Linked DNA regions of Homo sapiens: all the other regions are linked to region 1. The links come from fine-mapping of genetic effects on gene expression. A gene starts in region 1. Each other region holds a variant in brackets. All regions are shown on one strand. Distances are between the middles of the regions. Region 1 holds the start of PLCG2 (phospholipase C gamma 2). Region 2 overlaps PLCG2 (phospholipase C gamma 2). Region 3 overlaps PLCG2 (phospholipase C gamma 2). Region 4 overlaps PLCG2 (phospholipase C gamma 2).

The links.
Region 2: its variant is fine-mapped to the expression of PLCG2 in whole blood (TOPMed, PIP above 0.99). The same link has a PIP of 0.9 or more in putamen.
Region 3: its variant is fine-mapped to the expression of PLCG2 in whole blood (TOPMed, PIP above 0.99).
Region 4: its variant is fine-mapped to the expression of PLCG2 in whole blood (TOPMed, PIP above 0.99).

What each region holds. Positions count from the first base shown.
Region 1 is chr16:81,776,093-81,783,645 of GRCh38, reverse strand. PLCG2 (phospholipase C gamma 2) reads right to left here and starts at 4,355. Exons shown (of 33, transcript NM_002661.5): 1 at 4,222-4,355. LOC105369213 (a long non-coding RNA gene) reads right to left here. Exons shown (of 4, transcript NR_189584.1): 4 at 6,293-6,474. RefSeq lists silencers at 4,050-4,129, 4,140-4,239, 4,270-4,539, 4,568-4,862.
Region 2 is chr16:81,838,722-81,846,274 of GRCh38, reverse strand. The region is part of intron 2 of PLCG2 (phospholipase C gamma 2); the gene reads right to left. Among named protein-coding and RNA genes, the nearest start is that of PLCG2, 63 kb to the right of the region's middle. RefSeq lists an enhancer at 3,484-3,543. The variant C/A (reference allele first, on the strand shown) is at 3,601.
Region 3 is chr16:81,924,772-81,932,324 of GRCh38, reverse strand. It overlaps PLCG2 (phospholipase C gamma 2), which reads right to left. Exons shown (of 33, transcript NM_002661.5): 23 at 5,147-5,243; 24 at 3,701-3,767; 25 at 671-828. Among named protein-coding and RNA genes, the nearest start is that of SDR42E1, 83 kb to the left of the region's middle. The variant T/G (reference allele first, on the strand shown) is at 3,356.
Region 4 is chr16:81,932,682-81,940,234 of GRCh38, reverse strand. It overlaps PLCG2 (phospholipase C gamma 2), which reads right to left. Exons shown (of 33, transcript NM_002661.5): 26 at 5,704-5,806; 27 at 3,857-4,066; 28 at 2,332-2,477; 29 at 1,320-1,434; 30 at 176-343. Among named protein-coding and RNA genes, the nearest start is that of SDR42E1, 75 kb to the left of the region's middle. The variant T/C (reference allele first, on the strand shown) is at 3,481.

The DNA.
Region 1 (7,553 bases):
CAATGGGAAATACGGCAGCGGAAAACTGAAATCCCAAGAGGTCACATTACTTGATCAAAGTCATGTAGACCAGCAGCAGCACAAAGATCAAAACCCTCACCTGAGTCCCAAGCCCCTAGTCCAGAATCCTGTGGCAGCATCTGGCCAGATATTAACTGATTTGCCAGTACTTGCCACTCTCAAAAGAGGTTAAGGGACTTATCCGAGGTCACACAGATAGAAAGTAGCAAAACGAGTTAATGGGTGCAGCACACCAACATGGCACGTGTATATATATGTAACAAACCTGCACGTTGTGCACATGTACCCTAAAACTTAAAGCATAATAATAATATAATAATAAAATTTTAAAAAAGTAGCTGAAACTGGATTTGACCCAGCTGCCAACCACAGAGCTCTTCACTATGTTGACTGTTCCCAGCCATGCATCCTGGAGTTCCCCACTCCCAGGTCTCTAGGCCATAGTCCACTGGAACATAAGTAGGAAACACAAGCCCCATTATAACACCTTCAATTAGACAGAAACCAGGACAAGGGACCAGGCTCCTCAGTTCTTTCCAGCCCTCACTCTGGGAGGGCCTTGGACTTAACCTTCCCCAGGGTCCCAGTTACTTCCAGCTTCGAAGCCCAGTGGATCAACTCAGCCATAAACACCAGACTTCCATGCTGCGTCTCACCAATTGCTTTGTAATAGCTGCTCACAGGTTGCCCTAAAGGAGCAGGGGTGGAATTTACACTCTCACCTGCAGTGGCTGACACCGTTCCTTTGAAAACACTGTATCCCCTCTGATGCTGCAGGGTGGGTGTAAGGTGCAGCAGTAATGTCCATTCAACTGTTGGAGGGGCCCTTACCACTCAAGTATTTGCCTGTGCCCCATTTTAACAGAATCGTTTTGTGGGATTTTGGATGAAATCCTGTACTGGCTTAACATGCACAGAGCACTGAAGAGAAAAACTTCCTTGATTTCTGGTTTGGGGTTCTTGTATCTCACGAAATGCCCTTCTAAATAAGCTTGTGAGATACAAGAACATGAATGAGCTTATGAGATGCAATTGGAAACAGATCTTCACGGCCAAAAGATCCCTGGAGTCCACCATTCAAATCCTGCCAGCACCCAGCTCAGGTCTCCAGCGTTCCACGCTTTATCAACTATGGCAGGGAGGTCTCCAAGACCTTGAGCCCAGGAGAGAGCACCAGCCACCACAGCAACTTCCATTTTGCTTCTGCTTTTTTTGGTTTTTTCAAAAAAAGAAAAAAAAAAGCCTTGAAATCCCTTTTTTGTTCCTGTTTCCCATTCTTAATGGGTAATTCTATAAAATGACTTATTTTGTAAATACAAATATGGCTGAGTTTGAATAACTGATTTTTGCCATTTTTACATTTCATGTCCTTCTAAAGGTTTTTCTTGTATCTCATAAGCTCATTCATGTTCTTGTATCTCATAAGCTTATTTAGAAAGGCATAAAATGGGCCAGGCACGGTGGCTTATGACTGTAATTCCAGCACTTTGGGAGGCCGAGGTGGGCGGATCATGAGGTCAGGAGATCAAGACCATCCTGGCTAACACGATGAAACCCCGTCTCTACTAAAAAAAAATACAAAACAATTAGCCGGGTGTGGTGGCACATGCCTGTAATCCCAGCTACTCGTGAGGCTGAGGCAGGAGAAAGGCGTGAACCCGGGAGGCGGAGCTTGCAGTGAGCCGAGATCGCGCCACTGCACTCCAGCCTGGGCGACAGAGCAAGACTCCGTCTCGGGGGCGGGCGGGGGGGGGGGGGGAAAGGACATGAAATGAGATGCGAGGACCCAAAACCAGAAATCAAGGAAGTTTTTGTCTCTTCAGTGCTCTGTGCATGGTAAGCCAGTACAGGATTTCATCCAAAAATCCCACAAGACAATTGTGTTAAAATGGAGCACAGGCAAATACTTGAGTGGTAAGGGCCCCTCCAACAGTTCAAGGGACATTACTGCTGCACCTTACACCCACCCTGCAGCATTAGAGGGAATACACTATTTTCAAAGGAATGGTGTCAGCCACTGCAAGTGAGAGTGTAAATTCCACCCCTGCTCCTTTAGGGCAACCTGTGAGCAGCTACTAAAAAGCAAAACACGCATATGCTTCGATCCTGCAATTGTACATGTAAAGAAAGACATGCACAAAGATGCAATATGTACGACAGAAAATCACGGAAGCAATAGTTGCAATAGAAATACAAAAAAAGAAAAAAAAACAGAAAACAACTGCTCATCAATGTGGGGGGCCTCCTGGATAAATAATGGTGCACATGCACTGAAGAACGCTCAGTAGCCATCAGAAAGAATGAGGATGATAGATAAGCAATTTGATCTGGAAAGATTTGTGAGGTCAATAAAAAAATAGCTTCAGACAATAGTTGCAACTGTATGAGTATAATACAATTCCCTTTTTATAAAGGTGATCTTCTGGTAAATCCAGGAGAGTGGTTACTATTTATCGGAGGCTGGGAGAGGGTAGAGGATACAACTTGACTTTATTTATATTAACTGATGATGTAACGGGCAAATTTTTCTCTTTGTGTTCTTGCTGTTTTCTAAATTAAGAAGTGTTTGTGTGTGTTTGTTTGTTTGTTTGTTTGTCTTGAGATGGAGTCTCTCTTGTCACCCAGGCTGGAGTGCAGTGGCATGATCTGGGTTCACTGCAACCTCCACCTCCTGGGTTCAAGTGATTCTCCTGCCTCAGCCTCCTGGGTAGCTGGGATTACAGGCGGCCACCACCACGCCCAGGTAATTTTTGTAGTTTTAGTAGAGATGGGGTTTCACCATGTTGGTGAGGCTGGTCTGGAACGCTTGACCTCAAGTGATCAGCCCAGCTCGGCCTCCCAAAGTGCTGGGATTACAGGTGTGAGCCACCGTGCCTGACCAAGAAATGTTTTCAAAAGTTTTCTCACCAGCAGCTTTTCATTGACTCTACCCAATGAGTGCAAAAGGGCTATTCATGGGGTCTGTGCTTTTCCACTTCCAGAGGAACTGCCCATACTCCAGTCGCTGGTGGGGGAAGGCAGCTGCATCATTAGGTGACTTAAACATCAGTGAGGCTCACAATGACGATTGTCCCTGAGCTGGTATACACGTGACTGCACACACACCTTTGCAAGAGAAACTGCTTGAGGCTGGCATAGACTTCAAAATTCTGTAAAACTTCCCCGCAGAACTGTAGTCAAGGACGAGGGCCCATGCCCCAGAGAATGCCCTTGAACCAGAGAGTCAGGAACTGCCCAAGGACTCTCCATGGATGCGCCCCGATTCTCAGCGAACCTCGTGGAACAGCAATAAGCCCCAATTCTCGACACAGCCCTGGAAAATTGGGTGGCTCCAGTATCCAGAGGGGGAAACAGACTCAAAAAGGTTCTTCAACTTGCCCAGGGTCCCACTGATGGAACTGAAATTCAAATTAAGTTCCGACGGGCAAGGCCACCTGTTTCCCTCGCGCCATGTCACCCCTTTACCACCCCGCCCCCCATAGTTTCTCACCCTAGTTCAAGATTAGGGTACCAAGAGAGCCCCGCCCCACCGTCCTGCTGGAATCCAGGAGCTCCCCGTCCAAACGGGGCACGTCTTTAACCTGAACTCTTGCGCTGTGCGGGTAATGCCCTCTTTGGGATTCCAAAACACAACAAAACACAACACGCACAGACACACGCATAATTACGCAGACAGCTGCGGAGCGGGCATCGCGAGTGTCCTGCAAGCTCTCCAAAAGTCTCCGGGAAGGACTGCGCCTCCCGCGGTATCGCTCCCACCCGCCACCCGCAACCACCGAAGTGAGACAGGGAAGTGTGGCTCCGAGCGTCCGCGAGCTCTGGGCACAAGGGCCGTCAAGAGAGACGGCGCCACCCCACGCAGAGCCGCTCGAAAAGAGGAGTTTTGAACGCCAGCCCCCACACGACCCCTGACCTTCCTCCCGGTCCCCATTCAAAGCTGGGGCCGCCCCACCGCACGGACCGGAGAGGTGGCGCCGGCCCGGGGTGAGGAAGTGGCCAGCGGCTGGGCCAGGATCCCTGCCGTCACCAAACGGACCCCGGGCACGGCGGGCCGGGGTCCCCGAGGGTGCGCCCCGTCCCTGCCCGCTCCGGCTGAGCCAGGACGCAGACCCCCTCGGACGCAGCGCCCTGGGAGCCGGTCCCCGCGGGGCGCAGGTCCCTGGGCGCCCTGCCTGCCTCGCTCCCGGCCGGGCAGCTCACCTGGCCGTGCCGCCCGGGCACAGCTGCCCGCCTGCCCCGGGTTTGGGCTCCGGGGTCCCGCGCGCGCAGCCCGCGTCCCGACTCGGGTCACTCAGCGCCGCTCACGCCCTCCGCCGCCGGCGCTCGCTACTTCTGCTTCGGCCGCGGCGCCGCGCCACGTGATCCTCGGGGGCCGCCCCCCGCACCGCCCAGCCTCGCCCCGCCTCGCCCCGCCCCAGGCGCGCCCAGCCGGGTCCGCCTCTCGGAGCGCACCCCGAGTGCAGCGTCCCCGCGCCCTCCCCGCCATGGAGCGGCCCAGGCCTGGAGCCCCGCCTCTGCGTGCCAAAGAAGAAACTGAGGCAACCCGAGGGGAGGCTACCTGCCCGAGGCCACTTGGCCAGGTGCAAAGGGAATTCCCCAATATCATGGCATTCCTGGAGAGCCGGCCGCAGTCCAGGTGTTTGCCGTATACTTAACACACTCCCGGCCGGGCGCCCGGGCTCACGCCTGTCATCCCAGCTCTTTGGGAAGCCTAGACGGGAGGATCGTCTGAGCTCGAGAGTTCGAGACAGCAATGAGCTAGGATGGGTGTGGCCGAGAGACACTCCGTCTCAAAAATAAATAAATAAAAATTAAAAATAAATATACTCTTCACAATTACCCGCCAGGAATTGCCAATTCATGGCCCTAATTTGAAGCCCTCGTTGAGGCTGCGCTGGAGTCAGACCAACCCTTACTGCTACCTTAGGCAGACCACTTAAAAACCGACAGCCTCAGTTTCCCCATCTGTAAAACGTGATCAACATAGTGCCAGCCCCAAAGGGAGTCAGGAGCAAAGAACCCCAGACAATTGATGTCCCGTTTTCCTGATCTCATGGGAAGAAGCTAATATGTTCTTTAAGAAATTTATTTTTCCGTTCGTGTGTTGCATGAAGCTATCTGATTCAAACCCTTCCTATGCTCTTTGATGGAGGTATCTTTGTTGTGACTAGAGGCAGTTTCAGGGGCACCTAGACAGCTGTCAGGCACTTGAATTTCACTTCCAAGTTGCTTGAGTTATAGCTTCTGTTTTCTAAGAGGCAGGGTCTCACTCTGTCACCCAGGCTGGAGTGCAGTGGTGCCATCATAGCTCACCACATCCTCGAACTCCGGGACTCAAGCGATCCTCCTGCTTCTGCCTCCTGAAGAGCTGGGACTATAGAGGCACACCACACTTGGCTAATTTTCTCTTTTTTCGACATGAGGTCTCACTATGTGTCCCAGGCTGTTCTTGAACTCCTGACCTCAAGCAATCCTCCTGCCTCTACCTCCCAAAGCACTGGGATCACAGGCATGTGCCACTGGTCTGTTATAGCGTTTTTTTTGTGTGTGTGTGTTTTTGGTTTTTTTTGTTTTTTTTTTTGTTTTTTTTTTGTTTTTTTTTTTTTTTGAGACAAAGTCTTGCTCTCTTGCCCAGGCTGGAGTGCAGTGGCACGATCTCGGCTCACTGCAACCTCCACCTCCCAGGTTTAAGCGATTCTCCTGCCTCAGCCTCCTGAGTAGCTGGGATTATAGGTGTATGCCATCATGCTTGGCTAATTTTTTGTATTTTTACTAGAGACGCGGTTTCACTATGTTGGCCAGATTGGTCTCAAACTCCTGACCTCAAGTGATCCACCCACCTTGGCCTCCCAAAGTGCTGGGATTACAGGCATGAGCCACTGCACCCGGCCTGTTATAGCGTTTTTTAATTGAGGAATATCACTCTCACTGTCAATGTTGTATCCCAAGCCATAGGACTCGTTTGTGACTTCACAAGATCTGTGGATTCATTTCTTTCAGCACTCCCAACTGGCGTGTATAGCTGTGCTCATCACCACAGATCACTTAACACATCAATTTTTTAAAGAGATCTTGGAAGGACTCATTATGACATCAACCACTTGAAGTCATTGGGCCAATTCCCCAGGAAAAATGACTACATCTAGGGGCAATTCCTTTGCCTCACTTTTTTTTTTTTTTTTTTTTTAGAACTTCAGCTTGTATTTATTTCAACCAATCTTTTTCACACTTTTGTTTTAGTATGTGTTATATAAAGTACATAATATATTAGTTCAGTCATATATATGTATAATTTATTATTACAAAGTCTACATGGATAGGGGAGTGGGTTAAGTCTCTTGATGGCAAAATGAGATTGCATATAATCAGAATGTGTGGAGACCACTCTAGGGAGCCGTGGCTCCTAAAAGCCTATCTTGACAGATGCCAATTCTGGCTGGATTTTTCTCTCATCTGTGGGAAGCAAGCAAAAAAATAAGAACATGAAGAACAGGTTTCTCTGTTTAATCTATGCCTGTGAGCCTATAGTATTTTTGAGTTAAAATGTCCACTGTGTGTGAGATAATGGTCATCGTAAATGGCAGTTTGCTTTTTTTTCTTTCATGTTTTTAATTCATTTTCTTCTTTGGCTCATTTTTTGCTAACCAACCCCTAGCCCAACCCCACCCCCCAGGTGAACGACTGAAGGAATCAGTGGATTGAAAGAGAGTACTGGAGGCCCTTCATCTCTTTCTCAAACTCTAACTTGGTTGTTCAAAATAAAAATAATCTGCCAGGTGCAGTGGCTCATACCTGTAATCCCAGCACTTTGGGAGGCCAAGGCAGGCGGCTTACCTGAGATCAGGAGTTCACGACTATCCTGGCCAACATGGTAAAACACCCTCTCTACTAAAAATACAAAAATTACCCAGGCATGGTGGCACACACCTGTAGTGTCAGCTACTCACGAGTCTGAGGTAGCAGAATCGTTTGAACCCAGAAGGCAGAGGTTGCAGTGAGCCAAGATGGTGCCACTGCACTCCAGCATAGGTGATAGATCAAGACTCCATCTCAGAATTAACAATCGTCGTCATCATCAAGGCGGCAGGCGCTGTTCTGGGAGGACTCTAATGTAAAATGACACTTCTTTTCCCAAGGATAATAGGTGGGGAAGGAACCATTCTGTGTATTCTTTCTTTTCCATGGAATAAAATAGGTAGGGAAAGAAACCACTCTGAGCCGGGCGCGGTGGCTCACGCCTGTAATCCCAGCACCCTGGGAGGCTGAGGCGGGCGGATCACGAGGTTGGAAGATCAAGACCATCCTGCTTAACATGGTGAAAACCCGTCTCTACTGAAAATACAAAAACATTAGCCTGGCCTGGTGGTGGGTGCCTATAATCCCACCTACTCAGGAGGCTGAGGCAGGAGAATGGCCTGAACCCAGGAGGTGGAGCTTGCAGTGAGCCGAGATTGTACCACTGCACTCTAGCCTGGGCAACAGAGTGAGACTCCGTCAAAAAAAACAAAAAAGAAAGAAGGAAAAAAAGAAAG
Region 2 (7,553 bases), 63 kb before region 1:
GGAAAAGTAGGTCCTCCTGAAGGAAGGGAGGCCAGTCCTCTTGTCCTCCCTGCCAGTCAGTCATTGGCTTGGCTTACAGCCACTACAACCTCCTAGGTGATGCAGATTTCTTCTAGTGAGAGCAGTGCCCTGAAGAAGGGGCACCTGTGAGCCACGACACCCAACACTCCTAGCAGCTGGGAAATGGAGCACAAGCCTGGTAATGGGAGCTGAGTGGGGCACAACAGCATCCTCTGTATTAACTCATCGTTCCTCACAAGAACACTATGAGGCAGGTACCATGACTGCCCCTATTTTACAAATGAGGAAACTGAGATGTGGAGAAGTGAAGTACCTTGGCCAGGGTCACCAGCCACAAGTGCAAGAGCCAGCATTTGAACTTTGACTCATAGTCAAGCAAGTGACTCTAAGAAGCCACATAAGAATATGCAGCTCTCTCCAGGGTTTTCTATCTGGTATTCAGCAAAGTCTGAGGGGGTCGGTGGGCATTTTTGTTGACATCTCCACCCCTTGATCTTACATCAGGCAGGGGCATCTTGGTGAATGATGATCCCACTACCCACAGGGGTGCAGAGCTGCACAGAGAGCGGTCAGGCCCACTGCGCTCAACGCAGTGCATTCAAGCCACCTTTCTGACCCGAGGCTGGGAACAAGATTCTAGTGCAGGGGCTGCAAATTCATGTTCCCAGGAGCTATCCAAGTCATGAGGAGCAGTGTCGCTACTGATGAGGTGGACAGACTCTGGAACCTGGAGTCCCAGCTCCCCAGCTTATAGCAGATAGCTTTGGACAGTAACTTCAATTCTCTGTGCCTCTGCTTCTTCATGTGAACAACAGGAGTGATAGTGATACTTACCACACAGTGCTCTTGTGGGGATTAAATGAGTGTGCGACTGTACATGTGTGTTTGTCAATTAAAATAGTACCTGGCAAAACAAAAATGTAGGGGAAAAAAAACAAAGATGTAGAAGCTTCTCTGTACTTGTTAGCAACTGAATCAAGCTGGACACATATAAGGCATAAGAAATAACACGGGACAGGGAACAATGGCTCATGCCTATAATTCCAGCACTTTGGGAGGTTGAAGTAGGAGGATCATTTGAAACCAGAGAGTTCAAGACCAACCTGGGCAACAAAGCAATACCCCATCTCTAAAAAAAAATACAAAAAATAAACGCAGTTAGCCAAGTGTGCTGGTGCACACTGGTAGTCTCAGCTACTCAAGAAGTTGAGGGAGGAGAATTGCTTGAGCTCAGGAGTTTGAGGCTGCAATGAGCTGTAATCACAACTCTGCACACCAGCCTGGCAAGAGAGCAAGACCCTGTCTCAGAAAAAAAGAAAGAACATGGTGTCTCAATTTATTTGCTGTGAACATTAAGGAGGCAGATCCTTATGTACCGACATGACAAAAACTCCTCGATGACCTGTGTAAATAGGAGACTAGATGTATGCATCCATGTGTGTACACACATACATGGCCATGTGTACATGTACATATTATATACAAGTGTCCATCACTATGCAAATTCTCACTATCTGAATGTCTACTATAACTTATTAACTCTTTTTTTATGCAAAATGCACAATCCAGATCATAGACCTGCTGTACGAGGTTCACGAGCACCTAGGTGCCAATGAAAACAGTGAAGGTGTGGGCCAGGCACAGTGGCTCACGCCGGTAATCCCAGCGATTTGGGAGGCCTAGGCAAGCAGATCACTTGAAGTTGGGAGTTTGAGACCAGCCTGGCCACCATGGCAAAACCCTGTCTCTACCAAAAATACAAAAATTAGCCGGGCATGGGGGCATGCACCTGTAATCGCAGTTACTAGGAAGTCTGAGGCAGGAGAATCACTTGAACCCATTGTGGGGGTGCAGAGGTTGCAGTGAGCCAAGATCACACCACTGCACTCCGGCCTGGGCAACAAGAGTGAAACTCCATCCGAAAGAAGAAAGAAAAGAAAGGAAAAGAAAAATGAAAAGGTGCCCGGGCGCGGTGGCTCACGCCTGTAATCCCAGCACTTTGGGAGGCCGAGGCGGGTGGATCACGAGGTCAGGAGATAGAGACCATCCTGGCTAACACGTGAAACCTCGTCTCTACTAAAAATACCAAAAAAAAAAAAAAAAAAAAAAATCAGCCGGGTGTGGTGGCGGGCACCTGTAGTCCCAGCTACTCGGGAGGCTGAGGCAGGAGAATGGCATAAACCCGGGAGGCAGAGCTTGTAGTGAGCCGACGTCACACCACTGCACTCCAGCCTGGGCCACAGAGCAAGACGCCTTCTCAAAAAAAAAAAGAAAGAAAGAAAAAGAAAACAAAAGAAAAACGAAAAGGAAAAAGGAAAAGGAAACAGAAACAGAAAAGGAAAGGAAAGGCGTGTCTGTCTGCAATGGAAGAGAAGCAGTTAGACACACAACCAACGGCACATCAAACCCGGCATCCTGCCCATTCTATTGAGTTCTTCTTTCATCCCAGCATTTGCTTCTGACAAGCAAACTACCAACCAGGGTCCAATTTAAATGAATCTTTAGTATTTTAAGCAGATCATTTCATTGTTTTTTCCATTACAGTACAAGGTAGTTGGAGGATAGAAGAATATCCTAATTCAGAAACATTACTGTATAGTATCCTATGTACTTTTTGCAAACATGCTTAGCAATGGGTTCATCAAAGCACCCAAAAATTGGGCATTTGTTGCTGTAGATGCTTTGTATTCACGCGAAAAATATTGGTAGGCTGATTTTAGGTACTTAAGGTTGTTAAGTGATACTAAGGAAATTGGCTGGGGTGTTTCAATCAGTTGGTAATGCATCAGCGCTTGTCTCTGTGTAATATGATGTAATATATTGCAATCCAAAAATGTTCCTCTCCAGTGTGTTTTCAGGAATGTACTGGATTCAGCTAAGAAGGAATGTGCCTATTTGTAAGTGTGCACGTATGAGTGTAAAGGTGTGAGAAAGGGTACCAAAAGATTTCCACCAACTTGCTGACAACAGGCACTACTAGTGAGAAGGAGATGGGCAAATGATGGTCAAGGAGGGCTTTGTCTGCATGGGTTCAAATTTTTGCCAAGGGCTCATAGTGACTGAAACAACACTTTATTCTCAAAGTAGGCTGTGGTCAGCAGACCTCAGGCCATGCACTCTTGCATGGTGGGGCTCAGTGGCCGAGTTTCCTGCTTGAAGAAAGTGAGATAACCCAGCCACAGAAATGAGGCTTCATCTTTGCACAACCCCACCCCCTTCCCAGCATCACCTCGGGTCTTCCCAGGTCCACCCCACCCCCACCACCCATCCCTCCACTCCCACCCCCTGCAAACAAACCCCCACACACTGAGTCTCCTAGAGTCAGCCTCAAAGGCCGGCACCCCACTCCAGCCACCCTCCCTCAGCCCTCCCTGCCTACCCATCACCTTCTGGCACAGCCTTGCGGACTTTTGGCCCCTCCGTACGTCTCATAGCTTCCTCTCACTCCCCGCTTTACACCACCGACCCCTTTGCTGGCCGGGCCATGACCCTGTTCTTCAAGCTCCCATTTCCTTCCTCCTCCCGCTACTGATTCTCTGTCTCTCTCAGGCTCCCTGCACCCACGGAACGTCCTCCCAC[C/A]CCTGACACCAGGAACATGGCTTTTTCCCCAATTCCCATACATGACCTCAAGGGGCACCACACCTGACAATGAGCTTAACAAAAATTTCTCTCTGGAAGCTCAAGACATATTCAAGCGAGCAAACAGACAGACAGAAGGCTTGGGCACCTTCCCACACATACCCCAACCTCTTTTCCGACTTTCAGTTATTCAGTCAACCAGGCAGTCACAGAACCCCACGCTGAGCGCTAGGGATGCCACACTGCAGAGACAGACACAGTCCTGCCCTCAGACGGCTCCGAGTCTGGGAGGGAGGACAGGCCCTGTCCAGGCCGGCATATGATATGTGAATATCCACATCTCCATCCACATCAGGAGTGCAACAGAGTCCACACTGGGGCTCCTCCCCAGCAAGGGGAAGAAAGGCTTCTCTGAGCACATGCATCCTGGCTGAGTTCTGCAGACTGGAGCTCACCTGGGAAGAAGAGGAGAAAGCCTCCCTTTGTAGGGAGTTCTGGAGTACAAAGACCTTGGTTCAAATCCTGGCTTATGCTCCCCAGGGGTGCACAGGAACCAGGCACGTTGCATCCCTTCTCTTTGCTGTTTCCTCCGCTGTACAAGCAGTGATGCTTATCATTGAGTTGTCATGCAAACCAAATGAAATAACATGAAATAAAAATCACGTGGCCCCAGGAGGGCTCCACCAAGGTGAGTTTAGCTACTAGGCTGAATGGTTTTCTGTACCACCTTGCAACACCAGCTTCCCAGCTGCTGGTGGTTTCACTTTAAGTAAAAAGCCCCAGCGTTGCTTACTGATCTCAGCCAAGGACCCTGCTTTAAGAAAAACCAAAGGTGTTAGGTTACTTCACACATGTAGCAGCGTCTGACATGGCAGCTGGGGGAATAGGTGAGATACACAGCAGAAGAACATGTAATGACAAAAGGGGCTTCCGAGGCACACACGGTAGAGCAGAAAGAGCCCAGCTCTAGAAGGATCTAGCAGGCATGAGTTAAATCCAGCTCTTTCTCTCCTGGCTGTATGAAGAAGCCTCTATTCTGGCTTACTGTCTATTTTCTCATCTATGAAATGGAAAAAGAACATACACCCTATAGAGATATATCTGAAAAAAAACTTTGCAAAAAGTAAAGTTTACAGCCGGGCGCAGTGGTTCATGCCTGTAATCCCAGCACCTTGGGAGGCCGAAGTGGGCAGATCACTTGAGGTCAGGAGTTTGAAACCAGCCTGGCCAACATAGTGAAATGCTGTCTCTACTAAAAATACAAAAATTAGCTGGGCATGGTAGTAAGCGCCTGGGTGCCTGTAATCCCAGCTACTCAGGAGGCTGAGAAGAACGGCTTGAGCCCAGGAGACGGAGGTTGAAGTGAGCCAAGATCATGCCACTGCACTCCAGCCTAGGCGACTCAGTGAGACTCTATCTCAATAAATAAATAAATAAATAAATAAATAAATAAATAAATAAATAAATAAAGTTTACTTTTTGGCCTGCAGATAGGGGGTGGGCCTGCCCTTATCTTCTTTGTTAAAAAGATAATAAACAACAGAGTTGTTGCCACTGCGCTGACAGCAGAGGCGAAAATCAGTGTCCTGCTTCCATGTGAAGAGATTCTTCCCAGATCATTATGCTCAAATAATTAGGTCTGTGATTCTAATGCTTCATATTCATGCAGAACTATTCAATAGATAAGAGTTTTAAGTGATACTGGGGAAACTGGTGCTTCTCTCCCCTCTGGGACTCCCCATCCCCAAGGGAGGAAGGGACCACTCCCTGGAAAAAGGAACTGAGGATACTCAGCCTCTTCATCTTGTTCTAGCTGGATCCACCCCCAAGGGACCACGTGCCCTGCCCTGTTCCTTGCCACTCGGAAGGGAGCTGCCTCCAAGACAGGGGTCCCCAATCCCCAGGCCATGAACTGGCACCTGTCTGTGGCCCGTTAGGAATCGAGCCGCACAGCAGGAGGTGAGCAGGGGTCTAGCGAACATTACTGCCTGAGCTCCACCTCCTGTCAGATCATCAGCGGCGTTAGATTCTCATGGCAGCACAAACCTTATTGAGAACTGCACATGTGAGGGACCCAGGTTGTACACTCTTTATGAGAATCTAATGCCTGATGATCTGTCACTGTCTCCCATCACTCCCAGATAGAACTGTCTAGTTGCAGGAAAACAAGCTCAGGTCTCCCACTGATTCTATATTACGGTGAGTTGTATAATTATTTCATTATATATTACAATGTAATCATAATATAAATGAAGTACACAATCAATGTAATGCCCTTGAATCATCCTCACACTATCCCCCCAGGCCAATCTGGCCCATGGAAAAGTTATCTTCCACAAAACCGGCCCCTGGTGCCAAAAAAGTCTGGGACTGCTGCTCTGAGACACCTATGGGCATCCACCCAGGCCATGACAGGGTGGGCAGCTCAGGGGCCAGCTGTCAGGGCTCAATTCTAAGCATGCTCTCCAGGCAGCCATCTCATCGCCCTTCGTTGATTGCCGATGTTTCATTTCTCAATCATTTCCAAACTCAGGAGACAATGAGAAAATGAGGAGCTTTATGTGCTCACCACTAACACCCCCAGCATGGGCCATCAAATAATTCTTTAAGTTTTTTTGGAGACAAGGTCATGCCCTGTCACCCAGGCTGGAGTGCAGTGGCACAATCACAGCTCACTGCATCCTTGAACTCGTAGGCTCAAGGGACCCTCCTGCCTCAGCCTCCCAAAGCCAGGTGACTGGGACTACAGGCATGCACCATCACACCTACCTAAGTTTTCTCTTTTTAGTAGAGACAAGGTCTCACTATGTTGCCTAGGCTGGTCTCAAATCCCTGGCCTCAAGTGATCCTCCCATTTTGGTTTCCCCAAGTGTTGGGATTACAGGCATGAGCCACCATGCCCAGCCTAAATGTTCATCATTTTGGTGCCATTTAAACTTGGTGTTTTTCACCCTCCTGCTGGTAATTAAATTTAAATGGTGCCCACCCTTTGTTATGTCTTAACTGTAGTATATTTTAAAATATATTGAAAAAATACATACCTGGCACCTCTAAACTATGAAATCAAGTTTCTTTTCTATATAAAATTAAGTTTAAAAATAGTGAATCAATATTAAAATAAGTATTAGATATAAAATAGTACTCATGGTATGCAAATATAACAAAAATTATTAAGGCAATAAAGGAAGGGCTCATTACTTTATATACAGCCTATTAATATTTTAATAGGCTAATTCTGCTTTTCTTTAAACCAGTACTGTGTATCAAAATTACACAGAAAACTCTCATTATACAAAGACTATATAGAGATTTTTTTTTTTCCTCACACATGGATTGACCAGTTTTGGGGGGTGGTTTGGAGCCATATGACATTATTTCTCAAACTGCAAACATTTGTTTATCAACCTTATAAGGTTTGTTGTATCTGCCTACTGCTGATACTATTTATGTGATAGTTTTCTTTAAATCAACTCACCGTTTTCACCTGAACTGATGTATGTTAAGAGTGATTTTATGTTTTTGGCAAAAAGAAAACCAGTAACACTCACCATATACAATAGGAACTGCAAAATAATAAAATCAGTGGAAACGTGACAATATGATTAAATTCTACCTAGAAATAGTTGTCTGCTGGAAGCAAAACCCTCGGCTTGGTTCTGTGAGTCATAAAGGGAAATGAGAAGCCTTTAAGAGAGGCACAAAGCCAATTAGCCATGCAAGACTCACTGATGGGGTCAGAGTGGTGTCACCTAAAGAGAGGACTGGGTCACCGGGACCCGAGGAATGGCCACAGAGGTGGACCCATGCTTAAAGCCTTGAGCCTTACATGCACCATGTGTGCATTTTACCACATCTATGTTATTTACATATATATATATATATATATATATATATATTTAATTTTACTTTAAGTTCTGGGATACATGTGCGGAACGTGCAGGTTTGTTACATAG
Region 3 (7,553 bases), 150 kb before region 1:
TCCTCATTTTGCAGACAAGGAAACTGAGGCCCAGAGAAGTGTGGTTACTTGCCCAGGGTCCAGCCCTGCCAGGATGCAAACTCCAGTCTGCCCAATTCCAGACCTCCTATTCTTATCCAGAAGCTCACACCTTCCCAAAACACTTCCAGCCAGAGACTAGTACTTCAGGTAGGACAGCCCTGAAAAGGTCACTCCCATCTAGAGGGGAAGTTCCTCCACCGGAAAGAACCGGGTCTCGCTGATTTGCTATGTTCCCAGAGCCCATTCCAGCTCCAGGCAGGTGAGCTCAGTGAACGTTTTCTGTCAGGAGGATCCAGACTGCTTTATATGATACTTAGAAAGAAAATATTCAAAATGAGGAAGGCAGTAACTTCCTTGGTAAGATATGTAGGGCCGCAAAGACATCATCAATGAGCATTGCTGCAGGCACTCAGCCTTCTGAAGGTTCGAACCAGACAACCAGACCCACCTTCCCAGGGCACCTCCACTATCCCTGCCTCTCTCTAACAAGAGGTGCTCCAATTGTCTGAATCCACCTGGTCTCCTTCCTGAATTCTGAGTAGGACCTGGGCCTGCTCATCCTGCTGCCTGGACCCACCCACAGTCCCAACTGAGCACCAAAGCCCTCAGAATGCCAGGCCCACCTGCACCCGGGTGAGCAGGTGCCTACCTTGGTGTCAATCTTCCAGGTGATCTCTCGGATGCTCTGAAACCACTCAAAGAGCTCCTCCACCCTGTCTGTGGCAAACTCCACCGGAGGATCGCCCTGCTGCTTGGGCTCCAGGATGAAGACAAAGGACTTCTGGTTTTTTCCCTGAGGGGCTTTCACTTGGGGTAAGAGAATAAGAAATGTCCCAATCAGCCTATTAGAGGGCCACAAAGACCAGACTGCACCCTGCCTGAGCTGTTTCTCTCATGGACCAACCACCACTGCTATGACCACGGTTAGCACTGATGGGGACGTCTACTTTCCATCGGGGTAAGTACACATCACAGATGACTACTCAAGGGATGCAGTAGATTCAGTAGGGTCCTCCGAAAAGATGTGTCAGGTCACCAGTACCTGTGAATGGGACCTTATAGGGTCGTTGCAGATGTACTTAGGTTAAGGATCTCAATATGAGATTATCCTGGATTTAGGGCAATTCCAACATCCAACAAGTATGAGTATCCTTATAAGAGAAAGGAGAGGGACACTTAAGATGCAGGAAAAAAAAACAAACATTAAAATGCATGAGAGAACCTGAAAAAAATACCCTCTTGTCCACTTTAGTTATAGACATGTGTTCGTCTTGATCAAAAGAAACACTGAATATCTTTTTGGTTGACCAATTAGAAAATGCTTTTTACACTCATCATAAATATTTTTTACAAATTACTAAAACAATACATGTTCATTTTAAAAATATTTAAAATATAGCTAAGCAACTTGGCATTTTTACAAAATGTTTACATACAATACATAAAATTTTGTGAACTGTTTCACTTAGCATATTGTGCATAATTTTCTATGTTGTTACATATAATCTTTTACATATAAAGAATAAATAATTTAAATGGCTTTTTTTTTTTTTTTTGAGACAGGGTGGCACTCTGTCACCCAGGCTGAAGTGCAGTGGTGCGATCTTGGCTCCCTGCAGCCTCCACCTTCCAAGTTCATGCGATCCTCCCACCTCAGCCTCCCTAGTAGCTGAGACCACAGGTGCACACCACAAAGCCTGGCTAATTTTTGTATTTTTTGTAGAGAGGGGTTTCGCCATGTTGCCCAGGGCTGGTCTCGAACTCCTGAGCTCAAGCGATCCACTCACCTTGGCCTCCCAAAGTGCTGGGATTACAGGAATGAGCCACCACACCCAGCTAAATGGCTTTAAAAACAGATGCAGACACAAGGGAGAAAGCCATGTGCAGGCAAATGTGGAGACTGAAGAATGCAGCCATGAGCCAAAAACACCAAAGAGTCACCAGAAACTAGGAGAGAAATGTGGCGTGGGTTCTCCAGACACAGAGAAAGGATCTTACAGAGAAGAAAAGATTATGACAGGGAAACTTATCTGCCAAATAATATTAGTAGCTAAGATTTCTGAGCTCTTATATACCAGGCAATATTCTAAGCAGATTACATGTATTGCATCTTTATTTTATTTTATTTTTTTAATTTTGAGCTCTTGCTACATTATCCAGGCTGGTCTCAAACTCTTGGGGCTCAAGGGATCCACCCACCTCAGCCTCCTGAGTAGCTGAGACTAAAGGCACCCTGCTTTTGCTAGGCCCATTTTGCAGGAGGCAAAACTGAGGCTCATTAAGAGAAAGTCACATGTGGAAAGTCATACAGCTAGTAGTAGTAAAACTGAGGCTCAGTTCAAACCTGACTCCAAGATTTCTACTCAGAACCAATGAGCCATGTGCCTCTGCTCTGCAGATACAGGGATGGGGGAAGATGATACAAAGAGCACCAGAAGTGGATGCAGGGATCCTGCACCCCCCTGCCCAAAGGACCTCAGCACATGTGGTGGTCGGTCACTTAGGACCTTGATTTTCCCATCTGGTAATCGGAGCAAAGAATCCCTCTCCTACCTATCCTGCTGGATCATTGTAAAGGTAAAGAAGCAGGTTATAAATGTGGAAAGCAGGCTGGGCATGGTGGCACATGCCTGTAATCCCAGCACTTTGGGAGGCTAAGGCAGGCAGATCACTTGAGGTCAGCAGTTTGAGACCAGCCTGGCCCACATGGCGAAACCCTAGCTCTACTAAAAATACAAAAATTAGCCAGGCACGGTGGCCCATGCCTGTAGTCCCGGCTACTCAGGAGGCTGAGGCAGGAGAATCACTTGAATCCAGGAGGCAGAGGTTGCAGTGAGCCAAGATCACGCCACTGCACTCCAGCCTGGGTGACACAGCGAGACTCTATCGCGAAAAGAAATAATAATAAATGAATGAATGTGTAAAGCAGAGCATTGGCAATAGAAGCAGGAAGTTCCTGGGGCTGCTGTCACCTGAGTCCTAGGGGAGCATGCCCGTGCCTGCCCAGGGAGGGTCATGGGCTGCCCAGAACAAGGAGGCCCGCTACAGAGTCCCTTCACATGGGAGCTGCACCACACCCACTTCAAAGCAGGCAGGCTCAAGACCCAGGAAACCCAGCACACATCAGACCCTGGCCACCACTGGACAAGCCTAGCCTTGGGGCCACGCCTTCACATCCCGTTGCAGCATGGTCAACGTGGGCGGGCTGGGTTTCCTGGGCCCCAGCCGAGCAACCAGGAAGCAGAGGTTCAAAGAGGAGAAGTGACAGGCCTGTAGTCTCACAGCGACAGAGAGGCAGAGCTGGGTTTAGAACCCAAGACTCCCAACTCCACGC[T/G]GCATTTCAGCCAGGCTGACAGCTCAGCTTTCCTTCGCAACGCATGGGAAACACAGATGGATCCTGAAATAATAAGAGTGACGCTGGTAATAATATCCGCTAACCACCATCTAGCACTTATGTACGAGACCTTGTTTTAGCACTTACAGTTTTAGTAGAGATTAATAGCAGACATAGCATCATACTCACTGACCAGCCTGACCTAAATACTCAGCTTCAGCCAGGGAAGGAGCTGGCATTCAAGACAGGACCCTGTGTCAGCCACCTCCCTGTGTAGGGCGGGGCTGAGGTCAGCCCATGGGGGATAGGGGTGGAAATCCAGGCTAAGATGATGTGTGCACGTACCGACGTTATAGGTATTGAGGTCCAATATTCCTCTGCAAAGAGACCCTAAGGGATTGTCTTCAATAATCTGTGAAGAAACAAGACATAACTCACGTTAGTTGTAACGGGAATAATAAAAAGAAAACCCGTTTCCAAAGCACACCGTTTAGCAGAGATACTGCCTGTGGAACTGTTTAAAATGCATTTTCATTACCAGATACGTCCATGGGGAGAGAGCTAAATAATGAAGCATGGAGCTGATAGGGACCTGGCGGGGAGAGGGTGCCAGGAGGTTCGGAGTTTCATTTTCCAATCCGTAAAAACGTGCCTTGTGAATTCTAGAACAGGTTTCATAATGCTTCCTCAGATCTGGTTTCCAAACACATCCTAGACTATTTATCTGACCTTATTAGAAAATGAGACTATTTTGCCTACTAAAGCCCGGCTCAAGAACCTTCTGTGGCTCCCCATGTCCTGTGGAAGCAACACCCATGCTCTATGACCTGGCTTTTAAGACTTTCAGAGCCCCCATCACCCTTTCCAGCTCTGCCTCCCATTGCACCCTTGAACCATCCCAGGGTCTGGCTGAGATGAAGAATATCCTGGGCTTAGGAGAGGTGGCAGAACCAGGCATCCACTCCTTGCCTGCACCACCCCAAACCCCACCCCCTGCACCAGGTAAATGCTGATGTACAGGTAAGGGCAACTCAGTACAGAGGAAGCAAGGGCTTCCAGTCTCTGCCTCAGCCCAAGCACACGGAACACAACCACATTCCCACTGCCACACCTTTGCTTAGACTGTACCTCCCACTTGCACCTCTCTTCTGCCAGTCTCTTGCTGTTGAACTCTAACTTGACTTTTAAGGGTCAAATACTCCTTCCTCCAGGAAGCCTTCCCAGATTGCCCTACATCCCTTAGAAAATAAACACCTGGGGGTCTAACGGGATCTTAAAATCCTCATTACAAAGATATCATCCTTGGTGGAGTGCTAGCACGCTGAAAGTGGCTGCTCTCTAAACAAGAGGCGGCGAGGGAACAACCACCAGGTTTGCAAAGTCACCAGGAAGGCCTCATCTCACCTCTGGTTAGGCCCACTTGCTTACTCGCCCCAAGCACGTTCTCAATGTCTGGCTGTCCAATATAAATGTGTTTCATCTGCAAGTTGCTTAAGCAAAGGACAAATTCCCCATTTGGTCACTTTCACTCCAGCGGGAATTCTCCTGCATAATGAAATCCTTCCAAGCCCAACACAACCTGATTAAAACACGGCCGGCTTGTCACAGCAACTCACCCACAACAACTCAATCTCAATTTCCCTATCATCACTGTGTCTTCCCTGATCCAGAGCTCCACAGAGACCACAAGCAGCACATGGAAAAATTCACCCACTGAGATGGCACAGCTCCCTGAAAAACTGGACCTGCAGATCCCTTCTTCCTGTAAGAGGATCGAAGAGGGGGACTCACCTGCTTTTCTAGCTCCTCGAAGTCTGCAGTTGAGATGTCCTCGACGTAGTTGGATGGGAAGTACTGCTGGATCCTGGTTCCATAGTCTCCTTTCCACCTGGATAAGAAGAGAGGACATGGGGGCGCTGTCACCAGGTGGCATGAATTACCCACTACTGCTCATCTGCACCCGGCTGCTGGCTCAATTCTGATGGGGACAGACAGCAAGTGGCCAAGTGACCAGTGTCACTATCTGTGACAATGGAGCATCTCAAAGGCAACTGCTGTCTTTTTATTTTTTAATTACTAATGAGTTACTGGGGGCTGATTTTACCCCCATCACATGATCTTAATGTTTAATCAAAGATCACAAGTCAAAAGTTTCCATGCTTTACGTGGAAGTCAGAGACCATACAAGACAAAAGTTCACCCCTATTTCGGGGAGGTTGTGAATTTAGAGAGAAGGTGGTTCTGGAGGCAGACAGGCTGGAATTAAACTCCAGCTCTACCACTGACGGTGGAGGCTTTCTGTGCCTCCAACTCTCCATCTGAAAAATGCATAAACGTGAGTGCTTCCCTCAGAGGGTTTTATTAGGACTCTAAATTAACATAAGCTGAGTGCTTGGGACAGCGCCTACCTAGTACACAGTAAATACTCAATAGTGTTAGCTCTTATTATTATTCAGCTAAAACATTGTTCCCTATCTTTATAACAACACTAACAACACGGGACATAATCCATCTATGAATGTTCCTGGACCCCACCAGACGGTGAGCACCTCTAAGATTCCTCCCGGCAAGGCCGTGCCCAGACATGCAAACGCCCTCCTTCAACCTGCCCATCTCTTGAGCTATTTTCCGCAGCCAGGGACTCTCCAAAATGCACCTCTGACCACACCACATGATGGCTCCCCAGGGCCTCCAGAATCCAGCCCAGACTCTTCAACATGGCAGCCACGGCCCAGCACAGTCTGACCCCAGGACTCCCAGACATCACCTCCTAACTCTCCATGATGTTGACTCCAGCTGGCCCGTCGTCCCTATCATGCCCCTGCCATGCTGCCTAGCTTCCATGCCTTGGCCCATGCCCTTGGTACCCAACTTCCCCCCACTAATTTAAGACTCAGCTTGGGCATTTCCTCTCCCACGGAGTCTTCCCTGACTGCCCCCTAGGCTGAGCACTCTTCCTCTGTGGTCCCCTGGCATCCTGTCCCCACAGTCATCCAAGCAGCCACATCTTATACTTAACGTATAATTATACATCTGTCTTCCCCTCTATATGATATCCTTCTGGATTTTTTTTTTTTTTTTTTTGAGACAGAGTCTCACTCTGTCCCCCAGGCTGGAGTGCATGGCACGATCTCAGCTCACTGCAACCTTCGCCTCCCAGGTTCAAGCAATTCTCCTGCCTCAGCCCCGCCAGTAGCTGGGATTATGGCATGGGCCACCATGCCTGGCTAATTTTTGTATTTTTAGTAGAGACAGGGTTTTACCAGGTTGGCCAGGCTGGTCTCAAACTCCTGACCTCAAGTGAGCCACCCGCCTCGGCCTCCCAAAGTGCTGGGATTACAGGCGCAAGTCACTGCACCCGGCTGACCTTTCTGGATCTTAATCAAGTCTGTGCTCCGTGGTGGTGGGAAGAACTTAACAATTTTTTGGTCTGAATAAGCAGAGTGAGGACTGATGCTACCAATTCACCTAGCAGAGACACAGGACTGCGGGTTGTAAGCCCTTTTCACGCCCCCCCGCACCATTTCTCCAGACCCACTTCTGGCAAGGGCTGGCTGTATTTACGGCGATCATATATACCATCTGTCCAGGACTGAGCACTTTACATTCTCTTCACTCTCAGGAGCATCTTGGTTCAGACAATAATTGTTTGGTCCCCTAGCTACAGGGAACCAGTTTGGAAGTATGCAAAAAAGCCGGTTTCACCCAGGCGGCCCCCTAGGTAGCACTACTGCCATCAGAGAGAGGAATTGACCACAGCCGCTGGGCGGTTTGCCCACAGTCCCTTGCCAAAGGGACTTCTGACAGTCTCTTAAGACAAGAGCCTTCGAAATTCAGAGAACTGCCTGTCAGAGGCATAGAAAGGCATGAGGCCATCTCACACAGAATGGAAAACCGTGATTTGGAGTAGTCACCTGGGCTCCAGCCACAACTCCAAAAATGTTGTTAGTCACCCACCCAGTGCGCACCAGGATGTTGACCAAGGCAGGGACAGGAGCCCAGTGAGGGAACGCCAGTGTGCCTGGAAGAGACCTCAACTCTGTGCCACTTCGAGTGGAGGGACTTCGGCAAAGCCGAGCCTCTGAACTGGGAGAAGCAGACGGACAACACTGTGGTTGCCCAACTGGGTCTGGGAGCCTCCAAGGGGAAGCATCAGAGGCTGCAGTAGGAACAGCAATGTCAGCAAGGAGGCCAAACA
Region 4 (7,553 bases), 160 kb before region 1:
TCCCACCTGTGTGCTACACGACAGGCTGTACACCTGCTCTCCAAGCCACCCAATCGGTTTTACAGTGATTCCATCCAAACCAGGAAAAATCATTTTTCATTCTTTTTGAAGCCAGCAGCCAAACCAAAGTACAACGCCAGCCCAAATCGAACATCTTAATTAAAATGCCTCTTACCTGATTTGACTGCTTTAATGGGGTAAGTGGCATGAGCAAGAAAGTTGGGATCGCTGAACATATCTTCTTCATAAACCACAAAGCGCAGAAATGCCAGGTTTGGGTCATAAATTTCAAATGTCACCTTCTCCTGTGTTGGAGCCCAGATAGGGCTGAGGCCATTATCATCTGGAAGGAGATCAAAGCTCATGAGAGGCCACATTGGAGCTGCCCCCTTCTGGTAAGACAATCTCCGCATCCTTCAGCTGTGAATCCCCTTAGCAACCATGTAAATAAATATGCATCTATGCCAAGATCTAAGAAAATCTGAATAATTATCTTCACTCCCCCACCCCACCTTGAGCAATCCTGGAAGCTGCTGTTGCAGGCTGGTCCCTTGGTGAGCAGAGGAAGGAGACCACCTCCCATCTCCCCGCCCCAGGATCAGGGACAAGGGAACGGGGGAGGTGTTTGTTTGCAGAGCAGGAAGGTGGATTTTGGAAAAGACAAAAGGGGAGGAGAGCCTGGGAGCCACATCCACCAGCAGGGGGTTCTACAGCTGGCAGGGGAGAGCCCAGCCTCACAGAGCAGGCAAGCAGCAATCCTGCCACTCTCCATAAATGCCAGTTTATTTGGTCAGCATCTGAGTTGTTCATTGGGCTACTTTTTACCAGGGGCAAGGATCCTGTGCTTTAGAAGGCCCACCAATCACGGTTCCCTCCTGGCTTTTCCTGGAAGAGCAAGCATTCCTCTTGTCCCTCCTGCCCTCTAGGGGCTAAGATCTCCCAGGTTAGGCTGATCCTCTGGGTCAGGTCAGCCACGTAGGTTCACCCCCTCTCTCTGTGTCTCTGCCTCTTGGCCTTTGACTCAGGAGATTAATCAGATTGGGCTGTTGCACAGAGAGGACCAACCTAGTGTCAGGGCCTCACCTACGATTCCGGACTTGAGTTACAGGCAGGCAAACAGCACTGGGGAAAGTCTAAGGATTTCAGAAAGTGGCCCTTTGTATGTATCCCCTCCTCAAGCTGAACCATGTGGGCAAGAGGGAGGAAAGAAAACCCTGGGACAACTAAAGAGCATTGCAAAATCCCCCACGAAGAGCACTCCCACAAAGGATTCACTGGCCGGACGTTTAAAAGCAGAGGGGCCAAGGTGACTGACTTACTCACAACCGTCGTCTTGAACTTGTTGTTGTCATACTCGGCTCCACAGATCTCCACTTCTACAAAGGGACAGGCAATACTTCGTCCAAGTTTGGGGAGATGGCGAGCACCGAGAACCTGGGACACCAAAGGGAAGCATTGGAACCCCCCTGGGGTCCTGAACAGGCAGCCTAGCGTGGATTGCAGCTGGGTTCTAGAGTGACACTGGATGAGTTCAATGCCAGCCCTAATTTTCCTAGATTCACTGGAAAAGCCGGAGCAACCTTCTGCAGTGGATGAAGGTGGACTGTGGTAGATCCCACAGTTCCTCAGCATCAGCCTGGGTCTCGGCCCCATATGCCACCTGACTCAACAGGTAAAACTCACCTGAGCTCATGAATGCACACATCCATGCCCAAGCAGGTGCCTCTGATCAAGGCAGAGCTTAATCACTGGATTTCCACACCCCTAGGAAAGGCTGAGGAACAGTGTGGCATTCTTTTTATAACTGCTGTTTATTTAAAGGCCTGTGTTTACGTATGCTTCTTCCCCCTACCACCCGCCCGCCCTTAACCTTAGGAGAAATGCAATTCATTTCTCTACTTTTCAAAAATTCTTACAAAGCAACAACACTTTCTCTGAAAGTCAGATGAATTTTAAAAAGCCCTGGAATTGGACAAAGTAAGGGAAAAAACTTCTCCATTAAGACCAAATGGCTGTTTCCCATGTTTTCTTTCTCTTTCCGGCCAGAGGCTGACCTCACCAGGACCCCAGAAAGATAGGGTCATACCTCACCCCCACAGAGGACAAGGGGAAGTGGGTTTGAGGAGGTTTCCCCTCTCTTCCCTCTTCTCCCAGAACGACCCCGGAGTGTACTGTAAGAAAGAAAGATCCTCAAACACTGCCTGAATGGGGATCGTTTAAACAAGACAACCAGCCTCCCTAGACATGGGTTCCCTGCTCTCAAGACAGCATCGGCCCAGCCCCCAGGGAGGGCGGCTGGCTCCCCTGGCAGGAAGGGAGGGCTGGCTTTACCTTGACTGTCAGCGTCATCAGGATCTTCCTCTGGGACTCGGGTGGCATCGGGTCATATTTCTCTGTCCTCATGCTCTCAGGCTGCAGAACGTAGCCCGTGCGCCCATTGAGAGAAAACAATGCGTGATTCATCTGCATGTACTTATCTGGGAAGGAAAGTGAACGCCTGCTGTAAGTCAGGCATGAGCACGCTGGCCCCCTAGGCCAGGAGTTTCTAGGTGGGGAATGAATTTCACCTTTTCCCCAAATTAATGTGAGGCAGCTGTTCAAATAGGTATCTCACTCAAAGAAAATATAGGGTTTCTAGACAGCAAACTCCCAGACTGGGGAACACCTTTCCAAGTATGTCACCAAATCCCGAATCATAAAAGAAAAGATTCAAACTTGCTAAAAGTGTCTATGTAGCAATAAATTGCATAGGCAATTTTAATTCAAATGACAAATATGTGAATATAAATTTTTAACCTCTTAGTTCTGATACATCTATGCTATAAATACCTACTGCAGTAGATACATCAGGTAAGAAGCACAAATAGTTCCCAGAAAAGAAAATGCCACTGCTCCCTAAATGAGGGAAAAACTGGTTAATGTCCCTTACAAGAAGAAGCTCTAATGGACGACGATGTATCAGTTTTCACCTCTCAGTTGTGCAAACGGCAAAAAGTTCAACAAAACTCAGCGAAGTCATACCAAAAGAGCGTACTCCAACCTCCACCTATTTGCATCCCCGCCCACGATCTCTATGGAGGGCAGTTTGGCAGTGTGGCTTAGCTCAGGCACGTCTTCAGTGGTTTTCCTCAGGGCAAAGTTGATCAAAATGCAAGCGCTGTTTGACCCACCCTGCCTTTCTGAGAATTCTGTCCCATAGACATATTCCTACATCTGTGGAATGGCGCTCACGTCAGGGTACAGAAGGCAGTGCTGTCTATGACAGCAAATAATGGGGAATACCTACATGTGCCTCCACGGGGACTTATTAAATAAATGATTGTTCCATTCTGTGGAATCCGATGTGGCTATAAAAAGAATGTAAAGGAGGCTACTGATGAATAGATCCCTCGAAAGAGGTCTTAAATAACAACAACAAAAGCACAAAGCCCCGTGATTTATGCGATCACTTTGTGTCCAGAAGTTTGTGTATGTTAGTTA[T/C]GCCAGCATGTAAATGTCTCTGGAAGAAAGTCTGAGCAGAAAGCCCTCACACAGCAACAGGCCTGGAGAAGAGAACTCCAAAGATGCTTTAATTACATGAACTAATGCATTTTCTTTTTCTAAGCCAGACTAACTCAGCCTCTGTCACTTACTTACAATCACGAAGCCTGCGTAAGCCAAGCAGCCTTCGGTCCTCTCATCCCTCCATTCAGCTGCTGGACCTCATACTAACCATTACTCTGCTGAACCGTGCAGTCCCTCGGACAAATCACTCATTCTTGGACACCACATGGTATCGCTGACCCAAGGTGACTCGGCCTGGAGTGACTGCAACCGCCACCTTGCAGGGACGGGACTACCTTCAGTCGGCCTTTACCTGCCGTCTGGAAATTGAGTGCCACCATCTGAGAACCGCACAGCCAGAGGCGGAAGGGGTCGTAGTTTGAAGAGTCAACTCTTTGTCCCTTTGGGTAGACGCGGGTCAGGCCCTTTTGATTGTACTTCAGGAGGTCGACGGGCTTCTGTCTGATGATGCTGTCAGCCTTCGTCTCCACAAAGGAGCGGATTTCTCGGAAGTCAGGATTTTCTGCACACAGAGAAAAAGGTCATCAGTACTTCTGTGTCTCATCTGTGCATTTTCTTAATGTTTGCTGCAATGGCTGGATGCTCAGATTATAAAAGGAAACCAGGAATCTCCCTCTTTGACATTCAAGGGGTTCTGATGATATTGTCCCAATTGGTATCACTGTGGACTCTTGCCCTCTGGGGGTTCCAAGTATTAAAAAGGGGCCTAGTTTTCCCACCACCTTTTAGGCTAGAATTACTGTAATTTACTTTTTTTTTTAAACTATCACCATCCTTGAACAAGAAAACACAAAAGTGGTACAGTTATAGAAGAGGGAGAATGGGAATGGTTTTGGGTAGGAGAAGATCTTGGGAGGGGAAGATCCAGAGAGACCACAGACACAAGATGAACAAACTGAGAATCACCTGCCAAAGCCCACAGGTAGGGTTGCAATGTGGGTGCCTGTGCAGGGAAGGGAGAACAGGAGGAGAGGGAAGGGGACAGGCCTCATCTTCTCTCCCATCCAGCTGTGGTGGGATAGCCCGGCAGTCAACATGCTGAGCCTGCTGAGTCCCTGAAGGTAGAAGTTCCTAGGGACTGGCCTCCCGGTAAGTTAACTGAGGGGTCTAGTATTGTCTGGCTGGTCTTCTGTTCTAAGATGAAAGATATGGAAGCAGCTCAAAACACCCAAAGAAAAAAATACGTACAGCATCATCAAAAAGCTTGCTACCTGGAGAATGTGGTAGAAGGTCTTTTTTTTTTTAAATGGCCCCCAAAGATGTCCAGGCCCTAATATCTGGAGCCTGTGCATGTCACTTTATATGGCAGAACAGACTTTGCAGGTGTGATTAAGGAGCTTGAAATGGGAGGCTTATTCTGGAATATCCAGGTGGACCTAATGCATCACAAGGGTCCTTATAATAGGGAAGCAGAAGAGGAGAAGGCCAAGGAATGCCAGCAGCCCCCAGAAACTGGAAGAAGGGAATGGCTTTCCCCTCCGGAGGGAGCACAGCCCTGCTGGCACCCTGATGTTGACCTCATGATACTGATTTCAGACTCTGGCCTCCAGGACTGTGCAAGAATAAATGTTGTTTTCAGCCACCAAGTTTGTGGTAATGGCAGTAAGAACTAAATCCACCCACTAAGTGGGTGATATGGTTTGGCTGTGTCCCCACCCAAATCTCACCTTGAATTGTAGCTCCCATAATTCCCACGTGTTATGGGAGGGACCCGATAGGAGATAATTGAATCATGGGGGTGGTTTCCCCTGTACCGTTGTTGTGGTACTGAATAAGTCTCGCGAGATCTGATGGTTTTATAAGGGTTTCCCCTTTCACTTGCTTCTCATTCTCTCTCCTCTGCTGCCATAATTGTGAGGCCTCCTCCACGTGGAACTGTGAGTCCATTAAACCTCTTTTTCCTTATAAATTACTCAGTCTTGGGTATGTCTTTATCAGCAGCATGAAAATGGACTAATACACCAAAAAAGCTTCTGCCACCAGCTCCCTCACTCGGAGGACAAACCCAAGGTGGGGCCATCTACTGGGAGTAGTTAAGAATGAGAGAATGCACTCTCTGCCCCCTCTGAAAATATCAGACTCTAAAGGAAGTTAAGTTTTCATTGGAGTTATAGGGCATGTTCTTGGGAAAGATGTTACCTAAGTTGTCCTTGGTTTTGCTGGTTGGTTTGCAGTAGACAACCAGGTCAGAGAGCTCGATGGCGATGGACTGGTTCTTCTCCCAGTACTTCATGTTGTTCTCCTGTTTGGAGTTCACTGTCTTTAGTGCCCGCCCCCGAGAAATCCCATCTTCCCAGCTCGCCCTGCATTTTTCCTCCTCCATCCCCACTTTGCTTTCTTGCACACTCGGATCTTTAATATGGTTGAATGTTTTCCTTTCCTGAAGACAACCCTGCCCCTCTCGTTTCTTCCTCTCACTGTGAAAATTCTCGACAAAGCTGTTTCCACGAGGTTTTGGTGTGCAGCTCAGTCCTGGCCACAGCCCTCAAATATAGGTGAGGTCAGGATGGAAGGGGGCTCTTCTCTGTCACCACCCCTCTGTCTTTAACTCTGCCTCCTGTCCCCTCCCCTAAAGCCACACTGTTAGAGTGTCTCAAATTCTAGTTCTTCAAATCCTCGGGGGCTCTGTGGACCCCAGCATCCTCGTCATAACTCTCTATCCCCTGCACCCTCAAAACCTGCACACCTGCTCCCCAGCTCTGACTGCCCATCAGGGCTCTGTCCAAGGGGACCACTACCCAGTGCCCAGGCCATGTGCCATGGACTCAGGAGGTACCTCCCTTCAGAAGACCCACCATCAAATCTAACTCCTTGCATGTAAGGATGAGCTTCTCACTTCACCCCAAAGCAGGCAACCCTGTTGGGCCTCCCCAAATTCTATCAGACTTTTATTGGCCAAGGGGGGACCTTGAGAGAATATTTAGATAATAATGGTGACTGTTTGGGGGGTGCTTAGCTCTAGCCGTCACAGGCTAAGCACTTGAGGGATATTACCTAAGTCAATCCACACCCTGACAGGGAGAATTATCTCCATTTAACAAAGAAGTTGAGTAGCCTGGGCAACAGAGTGAGACTCTGTCTCAAAAAAAAAAAACAAAAAACAGCATGACAATTACTCTCCAGGCCTGCAGCTGTCACCCCTCAAGCCATCTCAGAATGGGAAGTCACAATACAGTTGGTGAGGCTCTGGAAACCCACTAACTAGAAGGATTTTGTGACTGCCCTCTGCCATCAATGAGGTGGCTACAGACCGTGTAACAATGCGGGCACTTAGGGACAGGCAGAGGTCCTGGCAGTGACAAAGAGTTTATCCGCCGCTGGTTTCCCAAGAGTGGGATGGGGCCTTCTTCCTTTGCTCCCCAACACCAGCTCCGCAAAAGGGGTAGCTGTGCCCAGTGTGGGAACTCCGTCAACTCTACTGTCCCAGTTTTTTTACCCCTCAGATGTAATAACAGGACTTTAAAAATCATTCTCATGAAATCTCAGTAAATATAAAAACCAGTTAGAGAGGAATGCAGACCAAAGGCCGCCAACAGCAACCTTGAACAGCTCAGCTTCATTTCAGGAACCTTCACGCGGCAGGAGAGGAGGTGTGAGGCAGGGGAGAGACAGAGCCTTCTAGGGAAATAACACTTTTCCACATTAAGCAAAGTAGAGAGAGCTGGAGTGCACTATTTGGAGATTTTTTAAATAAACCTCAGGGTCGTGGCACCTCCCTGTGCCTCAGAGCTGTACTGTGGCATCAGAGACACTGGAGGGCAGAAGAGATGGTTTCACTGGGAAAGCCAGAAGGACAGCGCAGCTGGCTACAAGCTCATGGTTCCTCCCCCATGGCTGGTGGTGTGAAAAGCCATGGGAAGAATTAGGAGCCCTAGGGAAGGCCCCCAGGAGTTCCTGGGTCAGAGAAAGACGATGCCCCACCAGCGAGGGCACCCATGGACCAGTCCCCTCTGCAAAGTCTCCTAAAGAGGACACTTCCCTGCAGAAGA